Regions from separate parts of the Homo sapiens genome. Here regions 2, 3 and 4 are each linked to region 1. Evidence: fine-mapped expression QTL. A gene starts in region 1. Each other region holds a variant in brackets. All regions are shown on one strand. Distances are between the middles of the regions. Region 1 holds the start of CRYBG1 (crystallin beta-gamma domain containing 1). Region 2 overlaps RTN4IP1 (reticulon 4 interacting protein 1). Region 3 overlaps CRYBG1 (crystallin beta-gamma domain containing 1). Region 4 overlaps CRYBG1 (crystallin beta-gamma domain containing 1).

Region 1 (5,202 bases):
GCGCGCCACCATGCCCGGCTAATTTTTGTATTTTTAGTAGAGACGGGGTTTCACCGTGTTAGCCAGGATGGTCTCGATCTCCTGACCTCGTGATCCGCCCGTCTCGGCCTCCCAAAGTGCTGGGATTACAGGCGTGAGCCACCGCGCCCGGCCTCCTATTTTAAATTTTATACTAAAATGTATTTACATTTGAATAAATTACCTATAGCTGTGTATTATTATGTTTTGATAGACAGTAAATGATAAGACTAGATCTTAAAAGGAAAACCACGATGGAAATGTTTAAAATATTTACTGAGGTAATAGAAAAGAACTTCAATGTTGGGTACATTAAATACTGTATTTTGTTAGAAAGTATAATCTATAATTAGGCACAGTAAACGTTTGAATAGGTAATATATTTCTACTACAACTGATTACCAATGTGGATGATAAAATATGAGAGAAAAATAAAATGACTTCTTTCTTAGGTTTCCTACCCTTACCCACTCACACCTAGACCTCCCCGCTGCAACCACTTGCGCTTCTCAGGAAGTGCCACGCTCTTCTAAGTGCTGGTGATGTGCACAGTGCAGCCCCTGCCTGGAACTCGCTGCTCCTCCCTGTTTCTGCCTAAGCCACTTCACCTATCCTCCTCCAGGAAGCCTCCCTGATCCCCTCCTGTGTGCTGGCATCTATCATTGCATTTTTTGGTATCCACAAGAGACTAACAATTCTTTGATGACACAATTATTCCTGTCTCTCATTGTTTTTTATATCGCAGTACATGGCACTTAGCTAAGGTACTCAATACAATAAGTGAATGAAAATAGATCGTAAAATTGACTTTTTTTACAAATAAAAGGAGAGGCCGGGCGCGGTGGCTCATGCCTGTAATCCCAGCACTTTGGGAGGCCGAGGCGGGCGGATCATGAGGTCAGGAGATCGAGACCATCCTGTCTAACACGGTGAAACCCCGTTTCTACTAAAAATACAAAAAATTAGCCGGGCGTGGTGGCGGGCGCCTGTGGTCCCAGCTACTCGGGGGCTGAGGCAGGAGAATGGCGTGAACCCGGGAGGTGGAGCTTGCAGTGAGCCGGGATTGGGCCAGTGCACTCCAGCCTGGGTGACAGAGCAAGACTCCGTCTCAGAAAAAAAAAAAAAAAAAGAAAGAAAGAAATAAAAGGAAAACCATGTCTAAAATGCAAATTTTGCACAATTTTATTCTGGCCCTCATAGGGTGTATTTTAAAAACACATTTGGAAGGATTTACTGGACATTGTCAATTGTCCATCACTATAAATATTTCACACCTCTGAGCCATGTAAATACGCTGTTACTTCAAATTGATTATTATTCAACGAATGCATAAACTCTGATGCTATAGTTGAATAATTATACATATAGAATAAAACCACTTCAAAACCATGATAAAAATCAAAAAGCACAATGGTAACTACAGTTTTGATAACTAGGTGCTCTCTAGCTCTGCCACTGGCTCCAATGGGGAGAAGCCATTTATCCTTTGGTCTCAGTTCCTCCACCCATGAAATGGGGGTAACCATTCCTGCCACTTCCTCCTCCCTTCGTATGTTGCGAGGAGAATGGGGGTATAACATCTGTAAGAGCACAGATCTTACAGATATTCACAATAAAGAGCTTTACAATAAAGACACTAGCTCAAAAGCAGTGCCTAACCCCAAAGCAGAGTTCCCGCCATCATTTAGGACGGTAACAACCCTCACTCCCCGCCGCTCTGGTTAGCAGGCTGATGCGGGAGGCTCCTGCATGAAAACTTTGCAGTCATACTAAAGGCCACATGCGTGGGCACAAGTTCCTCTCGCCGGTGCTTGGTCTGAACCAAAAGCCGCGAGGAACCTCGTCAACCCCAGCGGCTACGATCGCTCCCCTCCGGACCCGGGTACCCTCCTGCGGACTGAAACAGACCCCGGGGCTTTCCCCTCCTCCAAGTGGGGTCAGGAGTCCAAGGGCTAGCGCAGCAGGAGAAGGAGGAGGAGGAGGAGGTGGGACTGGAGGGCTCGGGCGAGGAGCTCACCTGGCCTCTCCGGCAGGCGCCGGGAGCGGGTGCGGAACGAACACCCCACAGTCAGGCGGCGCCGGCTGCTGCTTCTTTTTGGAGCGCCAGAGGTGGAAGGTGGTGTGCTTCTTAGGGGGCCTGCACGGGCTGGGCTCCCCGGGGTCGCCCTGGGCTGGCGGGGACAGCGGCATCGTCTTGTCCTCCTCCCGCTCCGACTGCCGGGACGCGGTCCTCTCTGCCGCCCGGGCCCTATGGAAGAACACACCTGAGCGCCAGCTCGCCCGCCTTTCTCAGCGCGCCGTGGGACCCCGCCCCCTCGTCGCGGATGCGGGGGGACGGCCGCGGGTTGCAGAACCAGCACCCAGCGCAGCGCGAGCAGCACTGCAGCCCGAGCTGTTGGGGCGGAGGCGGGGACCCAGCCGCGGAAGAGCGCCCCCGCGCGGCGCGGGCGGCAAGGGGCGCTAGCCCAGGTGAGGCGCTCGCGCCGGGAGCCCCAGGTGAGGCAGACACGCCCCGGCTCCCCACCCCGGGGGCGCGCGGCGGCCGTGGGACAGCGACACCTACTGGATGCTCTGGGCACCGCGACTCCCGACACTGCATCCCAGGCTCTAAGATGGGACCCAGAGCCGGGTCGGGCTTCCACAGCGCCTGGGGTGCAGCGGCCATTGTCGCCTGCGGAGTTGTTGGCCGCTCTTGGCCTGTGACAGGCTGGCAGGGTGAGTCGCTGCTTAGCCACGAGCCCCGCCTGGAGAAGGATGGGAGAGGCACATCCCGGGGCTGGGCCGCCCAGCAATTAGGACTCTTCCACTCTGATCTCTGGGTGGCTTGGGCAATGTCATGTGCTGGTGGCTTCTGTTCCTGTTCGTGAACACGGGTGGCAACTCCGCCAACTCGTCTCCTCTCTCAAGAGTCTGAATAATTAATTTGTACTCACATCTCATAAAACACAAAAGGATTAAAAAAATTAAAAACGCCAGAAGGGAATTAGGCATATTCCCCAATTCCCCAAGAGCTTAATAGATCCCTCGCAGTAAATTAAATGCCAGTCCCACAAGGTATTTACATCATCTGCATTACTGTTGATGACTTTCTTGTCTTAACTTCACAGTCGTGGCTAAATAGCAAAGGAAATTAATACTTAAGCAAAGTAAGTAAACGAACAATTATTTTGGGCATCATTAGAGCAAAGAAAGTGCAAGAACTAAGCACTACTTAAAAATTCAATGCAGTACAAGATCCTCTTTCACGGTAATGTCTTTATTTTCCTCTTTGAAAACACAACTCATTCATTCGTTTATTCACTCATTCAAGGAACATTCATTTTTATTTGTTTTTATTTACATTTTTATCAAGATGTAATTTATAGACAGTAAAATGCACAAATCATAAGGGTAAAACTCAAATTTTTACATATTTATGTGGTTGGGGTGTGAAAAGTTTTTTAATGGAGAGTTGACATTGTCCTAGAAAATTCTTCCGTATGTGGCTTTTAAATGTATGATTATAGGCCAGGAGCGGTGGCTCACGCCTGTAATCCCAGCACTTTGGGAAGCCGAGGCAGGCAGATCACTTGAAGTCAGGAGTTTGAGACCAGCCTGGCCAACATGGTGAAACCCCTTCTCTACTAAAAATACAAAAAAAAAATTAGCTGGGCGTGGTGGTGGAGGTGCGCCTGTAATCCCAGGTACTCGGGAGGCCGAGACATGAGAATCGCTTGAACCCAGGAGGCAGAGGTTGCAGTGAGCCGAGATGGCGCCACTGCACTCCAGCCTGAGCAACAGGATGAGACTATGTCTCAAATAATAATAATAGGTAAATATATATGATTATAAAAATATAGAATACTTTCAAAACTTTAAAAATCTCCCTACTGTCCTCTTCCAGTACATTACCCCTCCCACCTGTAAAAGTTAACCATTATTTCATCCTCTTTTGCTGGAGATTAATTTGACCTTTTCTGGAATTTCATTTTAGTGGAAAATCACAATATGTACTCTGTTTCTGGTTTGCTTTGCTCAATATTAGTCGGTGAAAATCATCTATATTGTTGCTTATATTGTAGCAGTTTTTTGTCTTGTTTTGTTTGAGACAGGGTCTCACTCTGTCACTCAGGTAGGAGTACACTGTTACCATCACCTCTCACTGCACTCACTGCAGCCTTGACCACCTGAGCACAAGTGATCGTCCCACCTCAGCCTCCTGAGCAGCCAGGACTACAGGCACACACCACAGGACCGGGCTTTTTTTTTTTTTTTGGAGGGGGTACATTTGTAGAGACTGGGTTTTTCCATGTTGCCTAGGCTGGTCTCGAACTCCTGAGCTCAAGTGACTTGTCCGCCTCAGCCTCCCACCAAAGTGTTGAGATTACAGGGGTGAGCCCCTGCACCTGACCCATAGCAGTTTTTCATTTAAAAAAATTATTGTATACTGTTCCATGATATGAATATGCCACAATTCATTTATCCATTATTGTGGATGGACATTAGGTTGTTTCCAGTTTGGGGCTATTATGAATAAAATTGATATGAACCTTCTGAGATGTACACATTCATTTCTGTTGGATACTTATACCCGGAAGTTCAATCGTTGGGTAATACAATATGCATATGTTCAGCTTTAGTGAATTCTGCCAAAAAAGTTTCCCATTTATATTCTTTCTAGCATGTTTGAAATTTCCAGTTTTTCAATATCTTCATCAACACTTGATATTAACAATCCTTTTCATTGTGGCCATTCTGATGGGGATGTGGTGGTATCACATTGCAGTTTTAATTTATATTTCCTCAAGAAACAGTTATTGAACTTATTGAGTACTGTACTAATTATGTGCCAGGCCCTGACTTGGGGGAGGAGGCAATGACAGATGCATAGATTATATCATATATATATATATATATATATATATATATATATATATATATATATAAAATCATCTGATATATATATCATGTGATATACATATATATGTACACAAACACACATCAAAGGCTAAAAGAATCAGTGGTGGTATGTACAAGGTATTAGGGGAGTTTAGAAAAGTTACTAACTTAGCGTGGTAGTTTGGAAGGGAGGAAGGGGAGTGGTCAGTAAAGATTTACTATGAAGATGGCCCTTGGATTGAACCTTAAAGGGCAAAGGGAACAGTAAGAAAAGGCAAAGAAAAGGGAAAGGGAAGAAGGGAAAAG
Region 2 (5,000 bases), 230 kb before region 1:
GGGTGCGGGGAGCGGGGAGGGATAGCGTTGGGAGATATACCTAATGCTAGATGACGAGTTAGTGGGTGCAGCGCACCAGAATGGCACATGTATACATATGTAACTAACCTGCACAATGTGCACATGTACCCTAAAACTTAAAGTATAATTAAAAAAAAAAAAAAAGAAACAAAATGCAGAAAAAAATTCAAATTACAAAAGAAACAAAAAGATAGGCTGGGCACAGTGGCTCACCCTGTAATCCCAGCACTTTGCTAGGCTGAGGAGGGCAGATTGCTTGAGCTCAGCGATTCAGGACCAGCCTGGGCAACATGGCAAAACCTCGTCTCTACAAAAAATACAAAAATTAGCTGGGCATGGTGGCTCATACCTGTAATCCCAGCTATGGAGAGGCTGAGGTGTGAGGATCACTTGAGCCCAGGAGGTCGAGGCTGCAGTGAGCTGTGATCACACCACTGCACTTCAGCCTGGACAGAGTGAGACCTATCTCAAAAAAACAGAAAAAGATAAAAACAGAGTCAAGAGAAAGTATCAAATATTGATGACAGGCAAGGAAAATTGATATATGGATACTAGGAGTCCTCGAAGGGGAAAACCAAAGCAAGGGAATTGAACCCATATTAAAACAATAATTAAAGAAACTTTCCTACTGTCCTGAAATTAAATGATTTGAAATTACATATTGAATAGACACATCACTTTTCTAAGGACATGGACCCAGACTGAGCAACACTAAGGAAAATTACTAATAAAAATGTGGAGAAAAATTATAGTGAAATTACTGGCCTTTAAAGAAAAAAGAAATAAGATCCTTTGGAAATCTAGACAAAATAGCACATGTGCTACTTATGTGTCCATATAAGAAAAAAGATGACGTGACTTATAAGAGAAATAAAATTAGACTATCATGAGACTTTTTGGCAGTAACACTTTTGGCAGAAAAAAATGGAGTAACATATTTAAGATACTCAAGGAAGAGTGCGCCAAGAATCTTTTATACAACAAAACAGGCCTTCAGGTATCATGGACACATACAGACTGTTATCAACATGAAGAACGTGGGGAATATTGTTCTTCTGATCCTTTTCTGAGGAATCTACTAGATAATGAGCTTCTGACTAGGAATGACTATGAAGACATTTTAAGGACTAGTGGTAAATGTTCAACACAATTACCTGTAGAACAAAACTAAATGAGGGCTTAGAAGGAGAGAGTGTAGGAACAGCCATATGTTCTGATAAGGTAAATACAGTGCAATAGTTGTCATTATTTTTGAGACAGTGTGTTGCTCTGTCATCCAGGCTGAGATGCAGTGACATGATCACAGCTCACTGCAACCTCAACCTCCTGGGCTCAATGATCCTCTCACCCCAAACTCCTGAGTAGGTAGAACTACAGGCACATGCCACCATGCCCAGCTAATTTTTTCACGTTTTTGTAGCGATGGGGTCTTGCTGTGTTGCCTGGGCTGGTCTCAAATTCCTGGCCTCAAGCAACCTTCCTGCCTCAGCCTCCCAAAGTGCTGGGATTTTGTAGTCTCAAATTAGAATTGGAAGTATCAATATGAACTCAAGAGATATTTTGTGTATGTGTGTATGTAAAGCCATCACTTGAAATATCATTTCTCACTGAAACAAGGCAGGGCTTCTTAGAGAAGTAGCTGATTTCAGATCTAGAGCACAAATATAAAGAATTAACCTGGAGTATATTAAATAGCAAGGAAGATATCAAAGACTAGTCAGGTCATGTCAAAAGACTCAAGAGCTAACTTGAAGAAATGCCCAAAGATGTAACAGTTTGAGCTTCAGTAATAATAATGACCATTACAATGGGTTGAAACCTTTTAAATATATTTAAATCCATGAGTTCATGATACTTTTTTCAAAAGAGGTCACTTTTGGAATTTGATAGGGAACCAATTTATTATCTTATAAACTGATAAAGAAAAACAGTTAAGCATTTGTCTTGCCTTTCCTACATTAACTGTATAATTGAGCAGACAAAATAATATGTGAGGGGCAGTGATATGAGGGGCAGTGTTATTTTGTGAAAGTATTCAGGCTGGACGCGTTGGCTCATGCCTGTAATCTCAGCACTTTGGGATGCCAAGGCGGGCAGATCACCTCAGGTCAAGGGTTCCAGACCAGCCTGGCCAACATGGCGAAACCCCTTCTCTAATAAAAATACAAGAATTAGCCGGGCGTGGTGGTGGGCACCTGTAATC[T/C]CAGCTACTCGGGAGGCTGAGGCAGGAGAATTGCTTGAACCTAGGAGGCAGAGGTTGCAGTGGGCAGAGATCACGCCACTGCACTCTAGCCTGGGACAGAGCGAGACTGTCCCCCACAAAAAAAAAAAAAAAGAAAGAAAGTATTCCAACTACTTAAATAAAAGAAGTAGAATTAGAAGATCACTATTTCGCAACCACCAATAAGCAGATATGGGTATTAAGCATTGACAGCTGCTAAGATAATAAAGAGAGCCTCAAGCAGACATGATGTGCCTCCTCTAGTTTTGCCAGACACTGTCCATAGTTTTGCTAAAGGGATTGAAATGGAATCAGATCTAGTCTCCAGATCCATCTGCCGAGTTGCAGAAAATACAGAGGACAGAGCGACGTGTGGAACTGTCCCGTGGGTGTGCAGTTAGAAATTCCAGACTGTGGGAAACTCCACAGATCAAATGGCCTAGATTCTTCCATAGATAAATTATAGGAAAGCAAAGGGATAGAACAGGAGCCTATGATTTAAAAGAGACTTAAGGCCGGGCACAGTGGCTCACACCTGTAATCCCAGCATTTTGGGAGGCCAAGGCGGGTGGATCACGTGAGCTCAGGAGTTCAAGACCAGCCTGGCCAACCTGGTGAAATCCCATATCTACTAAAAATACAAAAATTAGCCAGGCGTGGTGTGACGTGCCTGTAGTGCCAGCTACTCGGGAGGCTGAGGGCAGGAGAATCACCTGAACCTGGGAGGTGGAGGTTGCAGTGAGCCGAGATCATGCCACTGCACTCTAGCCTGGGCAACAGAGTGAGACTGTCTCAAATAAAAAACCAAAACAACCCAAAAATAAATAATAAAAAAAGAGATTTAAAAGATACCACGTTTTAAGAATGCACAAGACTATAGTGTCTAGAGACTGCATTGTTGGGTGATAAACTTTTTGAAATGCAAGGAGGTGATTACTATAAAAATCAGAATAATTATTTTGGGAAAGGGTAGGAGGGGCTTCTGTGGTTTGGGGCACATGGGAGAATTTTTGGCATAGCTTCCAGTGTGCTGCTGCTTTATCTGGGTGGTGTTCACCCTATAGCTGTTTTCTTTCTTTCTTTCTTTTTTTGTTTTTTGTTTTTTGAGACAGAATCTCACTCTGTCACCCAGGCTGGAGTGCAGTGGTACGACCTTGGCTTACTGCAACCTCCACCCCCGCCGGCTCAAGCGATCCTCCCACTTCAGCCTCCTGAGTAGCTGGGACCACAGGCATGCATCACCAGGCCCAGCTACTTTTTTGTATTTTTAGTAGAGACGGGGTTTCACTACGTTGCCTAGGCAGGTCTCAGACTCCTGAGCTCAAGTGATCCATCCATTTCAGCCTCCCAAAGTGCTGCGATTACAGGTATGAGCCACCACACCCCGTCTATAGGTGTTTTCTATAGTTGTGTTTTATATTACATGAAAAATTTTTATTAAGTAAAACTGTTTTTAAAACATTTTCATAATGTTCAAAGATAATAAATAGCTCTAAATGGGAAAGGAAAAACTAGAAATTTGAGGGGAAAAACCAGAAATTTGAGGAAAAAAACCTGTTTCAACATGTGACAGATTCTTCCTGAGGATTTAATACTGTTTAAAGAAAAACATGTATTAAATGTGGGTGCTTAGAACATACTTTTCTTTTTCCTCAATAGTTTCTTTTTTAATATAGGTATAGAGAAAGGATGGTCACAATGAGCTATTCATCTTGGATTATATTCTTCACATATTTGAATTTGATTTGGGACTTGCTGTGAAAAGCAACGTATCATTACACTCAAGTGTCTCTGTTTGCAGCCCATAAACAATAAATTGTATATCATATCACTCCTAAATATTTCAATTCCCCACAGATTTTCAGGATATATAAGTCTTTGGTCAATGTTGCTTTTTAAAAGTGAGAAATTGGGTAAGATTATGAATAAGTTAAAAACCCTTTATTTACATTTTGTATTTAACAGAAATTTACTAAGCACCTTTGTGTGCCATGGAGTAGGGATTCAATAGTGAACCAGACAAACACAGATCCCTTGTATTCTAGTGAGCCTTTATATCTTATATTAAGGAAGTTCAGGAAATTGATACTTAGGACAAGATTGAGAAAACAAGTGATCTCTTATGATCTATAATTATCTGCACAAAAATTTCTTAGTAATCTTCAAGTGGCTATTCTCAAATTAGCTGAAAATAGCCCCCTTTTAAGTCTATGAAATTAACATTATAGAAAAGAATTTTAGCAATTTTGGAGCAGAATGCTTTCTGGATACTTAATTCTGAATAACATTAGAATTTAGCTCTCCTTTTAATTTAAATCTAGTTATTCTTTATTATTTTAAAATATAAGGCATCTGCATTTTAAAACCTGGGTAACATTTATTTAGGTTTTCTTACTCCAAGGGAGAGGACCTGATCCAAGTTTTTAAGAAAAAATGATTATAGTTTCTTCCCCTTCTTTTTAAGAGAACCTTTTCATATGTTACCTATTACTTAATAGCTCATTACTTTGACACGCTTTCTGATTCAATATTGTGTTAACACTTATTAGAGATGCAAATGAAGATATGTGGCATTTTAATGTTCTGTATACATTTTAAATAGTCATTTTTCTGAAGACATACTATTTTTGGGCCATTTAACTTTGCTATCCTTGAAAGTGCTAAATTTGAGGCTTTTTTTTTTTTGAGATGAAGTCTCACTCTTGTACCCCAGGCTGGAGTGCGATGGCACGATCTTGGCTCACTGCAACCTCTGCCT
Region 3 (5,202 bases), 190 kb before region 1:
GTTGTGCACATGTACCCTAAAACTTAAAGTATAATAATAATAAAATTTAAAAAAAAAGAAAATCTACGTTACAAACACTAGGACTTTAAAAAAACAACGAACAATTAAAGAAGTAGAGCCACATCAAAAAAAGGGTTCTCACCAGGGCTCCGAGTCTGTAACAAGTAGAGAGATAAGAGGGTTAAAGGCCTTTCTGTTTGACTTCAAGGTTTGGAGGGAAAAAAGACAGTGAGGTGGGAGGCTGAATGCCAAGGAGAGAGGACAGCCCTGGAAGCAGCTTTAGCCAGTACTCTGTTCTTTTTACTAACAAGTATGGGTACTGTATTTTCCTATGAAACTAAACTACTTGTAAGTAAATACCCAACACCCAGCTAAGCCTATCTCTAATTCACTGAAGCTGAAGCTGGAAAACAATTTATTAAGATGTTACTTGAACTGACAGTAGTGTTGTTTTCCCTCCAAGATACCTGATGAATCACCCATGAATGGGGGGAGTGGGGGAGGGGAGAAGCCGCAAAACCCAGATCTGAGATTCTCTGCTCTATGATCCGAGAGTCTACTTACAACTTACACTTGGGGCTCTTAAGAAAATCCCTCCCTGTCCTTGTCCAGATGTATTCTGTACACATGAATCAACACTCCTCTGTTTAAAGACTGGTGGGGAGACGGGGGAAAGGCATGTACACAAGTACTAGCAGGTCCCAGCCTGGTGGAATAATTGCTCAGAAGATAAGGGCAGCAGGGTAAACCTGCCCTTCCGTGGAAGGCCAAAGGAAAAAGAATTTAAAACAACAACACTTTTCGTTTTCATCTGAATACCAGAAATATTTCATTTTGCTCCTAGTTTTAAAAAACTAGCCCAGTTTCCACTATTTGAGCAAGAATATAGCATAGAACTAGAAACTGATAAGCAGGGAGTTTCTTTCGACATTTCCAGTAAGAATCAAATGCAGTTCCTAAAAACCTCAGTTGCTGGTTTCATGGGCATCCTTCCTGAAGGCTGTTCTCTGTTTCAGGACTAATGATGAGTTTACTGCCCAGGGGATGTATTACCCATGTGATGGTGAGCCTCCTGGGAGATACTTTCATGGAACAAGAACTTCAGAAGAGTTTTTTTCTGACAATGCATGCCATAATAAGAAATAAAGAACCAAGCTAAAATACTTAATTGCCAATAAAAATAAAGCCATTAAAATACAATAATTTTCCTTTGAAACTATTTAAAGTGAATAGGTAGTCCTCCTCCATCATCTTGGCTCATCTCAGCCTTCCTATCCTATCCCACAGGCCTAACTCCAATGCCACCTCCTCCACAAAGTCTTCCTTCCCTGTGTCCAGACTGGAAATTAATCTCTCTCTGCTGTGGATTCCCAGAGCATTTAATCTGTACCTCTTTTGTAGCAATAATTATGTTTTACATAAATACCGTAACTTCTTTGAGGACATAATACAATGCTTTGCACATAACAGACCGCAATAAATACTTGTCAAATGACAAATCGAACAAAATATGAGGAAGCACCTGGCCCTGGTAAATACAAAAGCCCTTCCATATGCAAAGAATTTCAAAGGAAGTGGTGTGTGTGTGTGTGTGTGTGTGTGTCCACGTATGTGTACGTAGCTCCCTTCAACTTCCCCCTTCTACCAAAACTTAACTGCTACAGCCAGAAAAAAGAAGCTTAAGCCAGGAAATGCAATTAGAAATGACTAAAAATAGAAACATATAATAGCAGCACTTTATAAAGGGAACTGATTTCAAGTAAGCAAGGCCTGGGTTAAAAAGGAAAGGAGATTGGCTCAAGGCACAATAATTCTACCTGTGTTAATAGCATCATCTACAAAATACCTAAGGGAATTCATTCTACCCAGCATCCTTTTGCTTCCTCTGCCAGGGTGGATGACTAGGCTCTGACTAATAGAACCAACACAACTGGTGAGTATCAAAATGTACAACTGTTTCACCAGACTAAGTTGGTCACTATGTTTTCCTCCTAAATAATTAGCTTTAAAGACAATCTAAAATACTGCAGAGCCCCAGCAACATTTCAGATAACTTGTACCTTATATTTCAGATGACTTCTGGCTTTTGCAAACAGGCTACTGATTCTAAAATGTTAGGGCTCCAGAATAGGACCCAAGAGTAGGCATTTCCTGCTGAGAATGGAATACCCGGAAATCACTGATACTCTGCCAAAATGGCACCACATGCAACGGCCTAGACAAGAACTTGTTGAACAAGGTTTTTTTTACTCTATTTACTAAGAGTAAAAGTTAAGCATGTTCATCAACTTTTAGTACATTGTACACACTTTTCAAATATCCAGGGCTATTGTGGGAGGCCCCATGAGATACAATGGGGTTGAGGCTAGGATGATTCAAATAGTCTATGTCACTATGACAACAAAAACCTAACACCAAACACTTTCAGCATAACCAATGTCACATTATTTCATGTAACTATTTGAGAATACTCTCACTTATAACAAATTAGAATAGACATTAGCCTGGATTACAAGAATAATTATGTAACTCCCTATAACAGCCATCTGCTGTTTTTGCCCATCTGGCATCTATCTCCCCACTCTTTCTGATGTCCCTGGGGAACCACCAACCCCATTCATATCTAAGTGGCTCCTATGGGATAGACCCTACATCTCAGCTCTGGAGATGGACACGTAGCCCAGACA[T/C]GGCCGTCTCTGTGGCTACAGTGATTGGTTCAGGCATGTGCACATGACCCAAGCCTAGGAAAGCAAAGTCAAACATGGAACTTGTGAGAAAGAGAAGCTCTTTCCACTGCAAGAAATGAGCTGGGGCCAGGCATGGTGGCTCATGCCTGTAATCCCAGCACTTTGGGAGGCCAAGGCGGGTGGATCACCTGAGCTCAGGAGTTTGAGACCAGCCTGGGCAACATGGCAAAAACCTGTCTCTAAAAAAAAATACAAAAATTAGCCAGGCCTGGTGGCACACATCTGTGGTCCCAACTACTTGGGAGGCTGAAGCAGGAGGATCGCTTAAGCCCAGGAGGCAGAGGTTGCAGTGAGCTGAGATTTTGCCACTGCACTCCAGCCTGGGTGGCAGAGTGAAACTCTGCCTCAAAAAAAAAGAGTTAGGAGAACAAAAGCTGAATGTGGCCACAGGCCACCAAATGCAAAAGGCCTACCTAAAGTCAAGTTAACACAGAAAAAAGCCCAGTCAAGACACAGAGACTAAGTTCTGATAGTGTTTGATCCGCTGCATCTAGGCATGCCTGAAGCAAAATCTTCTCCAGGACTTTTTAGTTACTTAAGCCAGTAAGTTCCATTTTAATCCCTTGAGCCAATTTAGCTTGGCTTGCAGTCACTTCATCCCAAAGAATCTTGACTAAACATCTTTCAATAAAAACTTGCTTCACCACTAATAAAACAGTCAACTGCTAACTCCACGTACATAGAACAATTATTTTTATGTCAAACTAATAGTGAAGAAATATACTGGAACAGGTGTAGGACCACAGGAAAATCTACTGGGACTTTGACCCAGCCTCAGGTTTATGTTAGATTACTATTATTATTATTTGATCTCCATCATTTAAAAAATTCACTATCTTTCTGTGCAGAATGACAAGGGAAACAGATCTGTAGATTTCTATCATGATACCCAAAGCCTACCCCAAACGTAAAAAGAAGAGATGGTATGAGAACGATTTTTAAAGAGAGTTAACGAAAATATCATGACAGCAACTATTAAATGACTGATTTAATGTTAAGCTGTTGAGATATTTGTGTATTGAATGCCTACTCTGTGATAGACTCTTACCAGTTTAAAACAAACCAAGGTAAAACGCATGTTTAAAATTCCAACTGGATTATTTCACTTACACTCCACTCAGTACATTAATAGACTGTGTCTTCACTCCATATCCAGTCTCCTTTAAATTAGCAACAATTCCCAATACATCAATACTGGAACCTTTGGATCCAAAGTTTTTTTCACTGTACATTATCATGTGAGCATTTGAAAAATCCTATTGAGAAAAAAAATTCAAAATTCAAAGGCTAGCCATTTATTATCCAAAGAAGACCAAGTATTAGCCATTAGCTTGTCCTTTACTTACACCTAATATAGGTCGTAAAGACTGAAGCTCTCCATTGTAACCTCCCCAGGCTTTCCAGTCCCTGTATTCTCCTTCTTCTAGCAAATACTGATGACCGGTAAATCCAGGTTTCTCATATGCAACCCAACTGCAACATAAAGAACACGAGGAGTAGTCATTTCCAGACATGTTAACATTTTTTCAAGGTACATATCAATTTCATTGAAAAATACAAATAGTTATAAAGCTAGACATGACCTTCTGCTTTATTATCATTGGAATTCTTTAAAATTTAGGAGAATAACAGAATGGCCCCAAGAAAATAACCTAAGAGACATATATCAGAGTTGTATAAAAAAGGGAAGGGGAGCGTGTGTGTGAGTGGTGTGTATGTGTGTGTGTTTAATCAGGGCTGACTCAAAAGAACCTCAGCAAGCAAAACTGGATAAACTCACTTCAGATAGTAACAAAAATATTATGAATAGTTAGCGATTTACAAGAGCAACTTTAGTGTGCACTTCTATGGGAAATGTGCAAGATCTATAAGATGCAAAAATATAAAAATCAGAAAGCGAACTATCAAACTGTTCAATAGCTTGGAGCATAATTCTAATAAGCAAGGTTGTAGATTTGATCAACTTGAACAGGCCAATGTATCAGCCTTCCTTGACAGAGTTTCGCTCTTGTTGCCCAGGCTGGAGTGCAATGGTGCGATCTTGGCTCACCGCAGCCTTTGCCTCCTGAGTTCAAGCGATTCTCCTGCCTCAGCCTCCCAAGTAGCTGGGATCACAGGCATGTGACACCACGCTCAGCTAATTTTGTATTTTTTAGTAGACATGGGGTTTCCCCATGTTGGTCAGGCTGGTCTTGAACTCCTGACCTCAGGTGATCCGCCCGCCTTGGCCTCCCAAAGTGTTGGGATTACAGGTGTGAGCCACCACACCCAGCCTCAAACTGCTTTCTTAAATCCAGTCACTATAGGCTGAGGAGAATGTGGATATAACTGTCAAAATTCACCATACTATAGAATCAGGAATGTTGTTTTTAGGGGGGAAAGGGCACATTTATTACTTAATATTTCGGAAAAAAAAGAAATCCTAACAAGTCACCCATGTACTTACATGCCTCTT
Region 4 (5,202 bases), 180 kb before region 1:
GGAATGTGGCTGATATTATCAGCAAACCAGAGATTATACAACTAAGCACATGACCTTTTCAAAAGTAATCCTGTTTGAACACCATAGACTTTGGAGACTTTTCATCATCATTACAAACTGCTCCTAAAACCTGGATGAATTCTTTCATACATTCACAAAACTAACAAAACTTTGTTCTTTGAAAGTGAGTTTAATTTTAGAAACAAAAGCCCAAATCATTTGCATTAAGACCAGCAAACATACAGATAATTAAACCAAATACTTTGGAAGGATGGGTAAAATTAACATTAAAAAAATTGTCTTCCTAACTTTCTAATTTGTCTCAAACTGTCTCAGAAGACAACTGCGAAGTGCAGCTTCAAAAACATGTTTGTAATGGGAGCCTCATCTCACTGTGGGTATTTAGGGAACAACTTCCATGCTGCAGCACACACTGCGCTCAACACTGGGGACAAGACAGATGCGGCCTGCTTCCTCCCAAAGCTGACAGTCTAGCGGAAGAAACAAAGAACAAAGCAAGACACTGGGACAAGGGAGAGGAAGCACAAAGCTTCCACAGCAGATACTCAGGAGGACAACACTCATCTGGTCCAGCCCCAGAGACCCCCAAGACACCACCCACTCGTGTCACGGCAGCCGAGCCGGTCCTCAGCGTGCCCTGCTCTCTCTCAGGCTGCACCCTAGCTCACACAGTGCATTCACCGACAGCTCCATTTAAAAAATCATCCTGCTAATTTTTTAAGACTGAATTTAATTTAGCATGAAGCTTTCCTAATTATCCCTTTTCTGTCACATCACCCACAACTTGGAATTGTATGTATCTTTGTCCTGTTTTTCCACCAATGTTTAATTCTTCACTTTCCTCACTTGTTAAACCTACACTGCGCTGAAGCTTTGCGCACCCATCTGCAGCTCTGCAGGGCTGAGAATGCCTTAAAGACAAAGGACATAGTCTTACCTGCCTTTTTTTTTTTTTTTTTAATCTATAGCATCTAGCAAGTTATTCTTTCCATGATTTCTATTGAGCAATAGGTCCAATCTACTACAAATTTGTTTCTTAAAAGTCAGCTTTATTGCTTCAAAGTCACACCCTGTGAATTACCACGTCAAGCTGACAAAGAATCACCACAAGGACATTTGGATTTCATTTTTACCATTTTCAGAGGCCGCATGGATCCAATGTACGCTTCTTCTGTATCCCAGAAGGACAAGTCAGGGTATTCACCAGGTTCCAGGATGAAAGGAACACCCTGAAATCCAGGTTCTTCATAAATCAGCCACCTAAATAGCCACCATGGAAGGAAAGAAAGGGAGCCGACTCATCATTTGTTTCAGTTTTTCCTTCTGTCTGGTACCCAGGATGAGAGGAAAAGAACAGGAGAGGATACGGACCTACATAATGAATGGTTGGACTCAGGTGTTAGAATCACACTAGACTCAAGGAAAAATAAAGCCATTATATGCCCCTATTCTTGATCTTTTACTTTTCTCCTTGGCTGGCTTTGTCCCCTTATTTTAATTTGTATTATTAATTGCTCCAAAGTTCCATCTAATCATTTGTCATGGTGCCAAACATTAGTAACAGCTAACATCTCCCTAGAGCTTACAAGGAATGCCACTGAGAACTTCATCTAATCCTCACAACCATGCTATGAGGAAGAGAAGCTATTGTCCCCATTTTATAGATAAAGTTAAGTAAGTTGCCCAAGGCCACACAGCTATAAGTATGAAAGGCTGGAATGATTCAAGCCGATTCCAGAACCAGGTTCCTAATCAATTTTTTTTTTTTTTGACGGAGTCTTGTTCTGTCACCCAGGCTGGAGTACAGTGGCTTGCTCTCAGCTCACTGCAACCTCTGCCTCCTGGTTCAAGTGATTCTACTGCCTCAGCCTTCCAAGTAGCTGGGAGTACAGGCACACACCACCACATCCGACTAAGTTTTGCATTTTTTTTTTAGTAGAGGGGGTCTCACCATATTGGCCAGGCTGGTCTCAAACTCCTGGCCTCAGGTGATCCGCCCGCCTTGGCCTCCCAAAGGTGCTGGGATTACAGGTGTGAGCCACCATGCCCAGCCCTAATCATTTTTGTGATGGCAATTTTTCTCATTGCAGGAAGTGCATTGAACACAGTTTACTCTTTTCACAGTTACTCAGGATCATCACTGTGAGCATTATTTAATGCACAGTGGTGTCCTCAGGGGCTCTGAAGTTCTGTGGGGCTGCTTGTTCCCAGGCCACAAAGCTTTTTGAGTTCTTGGTTCTGATTGTTATGGCTTTTCAATACCACACCCTTCTATCAGCTTGTCAGCTGTCACTTCTGCTTCAGTTGGGGAACCAGCAGCCCCACCCTCCTCTAATGTGCCAGAAATCAGGAAACCAGAAAACCATGCCTACTAGCCCTGTCTCTAAACTTTACAAGGTCTTCTTGTAAACATCTTCGTTCCTGGGAAGGGTTCTGAGAAGGTGAGGATGCTGAAGAAGTGACTTTTCTATAAGAGAGGGGTTAATGTACCTGCTTCATAAACAAACATAGACTTCTTAGTGATCACTTACACTCATCAATTCGGTTAGTTTTGCTAAAATGTTTTAGCCGTGGTACTCC[A/G]CCATGTTGTGTTCCCCAGAACACCATGCCAAGAAGAGAGTGGCTGTAAATGAAATCTTTTACCAACAAAACGGGTCTGACCCCTCCCTCTTTGCTTTTTTCTTCTTCCCAATTTTGGCCCAAGGCACATTTTTGGCGGTGGTTTTTGTGAAGATTCCGCTGGATAAACTGGTAACTTCTCTAGACTCTCTAATTATACAGAGATTTACAACCAGGCTCCTACTGATGATTTGACAACACACACATGAAAGAATGTTGGGAGGCCAGGTGTGGGATATGGGTAGGAGGTCAGAACTACAGTGTTAGAAGTCAGGATGATGGTTCCTGGGGAAGAGGGCGTGAGGACGCATGAAAGAAACGGGTTTCTGCGATGCTGGGAATGTTCTTTTTCTTGATCTGAATGGTGACTGCGCTTGTGTATTCACTTTGTGAAAATTCACTCAGCTTATATATTTAGGGTTTATGTACCTTTTTGTACAAATGTTATGCTTCAAAAAAAGTTACCTTAAGGAAAAAAAGAGGCTTATCTTTTAAATACTACTGTAATGCTTCTAAACCACAAGAAAACAGACGCTAAGAATAGGGTACTTTACACTTCCTTATGTTTAAAGCATGACAGCCAAGGATACGTTACATGTATTTTGGAGCTCAAAGCTATCACAGGCACAGTACCCATGGATTTTGTTCTCTAACAAAATAATGGCAGTTCTGTAACACATTATGGTATTAGGCTAACCAAGCAGGTCCCAAGTCTGACTTCTTTACAAGTGAACAGGTTTAATTTTTCAAAAACTGAATGTACGGCTCACGAGCAAGCGATCTGAGATTTTGAAATGATTCTTACCGAAGTACCCTTTTCATTAAGTCTTTCCTTCTATAGCTTGAGTTCAGAGGGGATTTATTCATCTAATACTAAACATTTCACTTCTGTTGAAGCATGTGGTTTAGTTGCATAACATTCATGGAAGGAAAGTCATTCTGGGTAGAGGGGAATTTGTGAAAAAACCGAAAACATGAATGAATGCATTTGAAAAGACTGCTGTTCTGAAAGTTCTCCCTTAGTAAATGAGTGCTGAAGGCCTGCTGGGTAATTCAAACAGACATTTATTAATGCTGGGTGGACTTTGAATTTGAAAACTCATATGCAGAGTATGATTCACTTTTTCTAAATTCTGTTCCAATAAGATACATTATTTATGAGGCCATCAGGAGAGGGGGAAACTATCTCCAGGCAGGGTTATTTCAGTTTCTAAAGGTAATCTTTTATTTTCCCATGTACTTGGGTCATAAGCTTTCGCCAATATAGATTAAAAAGTACAACTTTATTGTCGTACTTAACAAACAGTATGATTATAAAGCCCAAGCTTATTTTTTAAACAAACAAATGTATACCTACAAATGAATATTGTTAAAGTAATAACAATGGCCATCTATATGTTTATTTAAAATATTTGTCCAATTACTCTTTTAGAAATACCCTTTGAGTCACACAAGAAAAATCAGTCTTATCTTGTTCACTTGCTCTTAAACAAAAACAGCACTTCCAGATGGATCTTAAGTTGTGTTCCCTAGACATGGCTGTACATGAATATTGGCCATTCACAGAAACCAACTGGATACTTGAAAAATTAAATATGAAGGTACTGACTTTGAGGTTATTCACAAGAGAGGGGGCTATGAATGTCAAAGGGGAAAATGAACCTTTACAATGGAAAGATGGAGGAGGCACCACTTTAACCAAGCAATCAAACTTGGTATTGCTAAAGGGCAAGCTAGTTAGCACATGCCACCTGCTGTGATACAACATAAATATATGGCACTATCTATATGAAGTATCCGTGCCAAAACTGTTTGGCCTGAACCTAACCATACCTTAAGACCTAAGCCCTAGTAGATAGGAAATTCGGGCAACAGAAGAACATGCTAAATAGTAGCATGAGGGAACACTCAGACAAATCTAGAATGTGGCACACTCTCTAAGACAGCTGGCCTAAATCTTTTTAAAAGTTAGTGGCTCACGCCTGTAATCCCAGCACTTTGGGAGGCCGAGGCGGGTGGATCATGAGGTCAGGAGATCGAGACCATCCTGGCTAACAAGGTGAAACCCCGTCTCTACTAAAAATACAAAAAATTAGCCGGGCGCGGTGGCGGGCGCCTGTAGTCCCAGCTACTCGGGAGGCTGAGGCAGGAGAATGGCGTGAACCCGGGAAGCGGAGCTTGCAGTGAGCCGAGATTGCGCCACTGCAGTCCGCAGTCCGGCCTGGGCGACAGAGCGAGACTCCGTCTCAAAAAAAAAAAAAAAAAAAAAAAAAAAAAAAAAAAAAAGTTAGTGGCTTGGGAAACAAAGATGGGGTATTTTAGAGATCTTTAAAAAGAGACTTAAAAGAGACAGAACAATCAAACGCATTTATGTGAACCTTGATTGGATCCTGATTTGAAAATGCAAATCTATAAGAGACATTCCTGAAGCAATTGGGAAAATTTGGTGATGGACTATTGAACAGATATTATCATGGACACTTTGTGAATTTTCTCAAGTGTAATAATGATACTTATGCAGGGGAATACCATTAGAAAGAGAGTCAGGCTGAATCCTATGTG

The links.
Region 2: its variant is fine-mapped to the expression of CRYBG1 in spleen (GTEx, PIP 0.90).
Region 3: its variant is fine-mapped to the expression of CRYBG1 in tibial nerve (GTEx, PIP 0.90).
Region 4: its variant is fine-mapped to the expression of CRYBG1 in whole blood (TOPMed, PIP 0.96).

The regions. Positions count from the first base shown.
Region 1 is chr6:106,357,915-106,363,116 of GRCh38, reverse strand. It overlaps CRYBG1 (crystallin beta-gamma domain containing 1), which reads right to left and starts at 2,400. Exons shown (of 22, transcript NM_001371242.2): 1 at 2,036-2,400. The coding sequence starts at 2,208. RefSeq lists silencers at 2,290-2,369, 2,390-2,599 and an enhancer at 1,528-2,394.
Region 2 is chr6:106,592,857-106,597,856 of GRCh38, reverse strand. The region is part of intron 5 of RTN4IP1 (reticulon 4 interacting protein 1); the gene reads left to right. Among named protein-coding and RNA genes, the nearest start is that of RTN4IP1, 34 kb to the left of the region's middle. The variant T/C (reference allele first, on the strand shown) is at 2,225.
Region 3 is chr6:106,543,589-106,548,790 of GRCh38, reverse strand. It overlaps CRYBG1 (crystallin beta-gamma domain containing 1), which reads right to left. Exons shown (of 22, transcript NM_001371242.2): 11 at 5,194-5,202; 12 at 4,094-4,220; 13 at 3,858-4,003. Among named protein-coding and RNA genes, the nearest start is that of RTN4IP1, 83 kb to the left of the region's middle. The variant T/C (reference allele first, on the strand shown) is at 2,688.
Region 4 is chr6:106,535,482-106,540,683 of GRCh38, reverse strand. It overlaps CRYBG1 (crystallin beta-gamma domain containing 1), which reads right to left. Exons shown (of 22, transcript NM_001371242.2): 9 at 1,155-1,281. Among named protein-coding and RNA genes, the nearest start is that of RTN4IP1, 91 kb to the left of the region's middle. The variant A/G (reference allele first, on the strand shown) is at 2,602.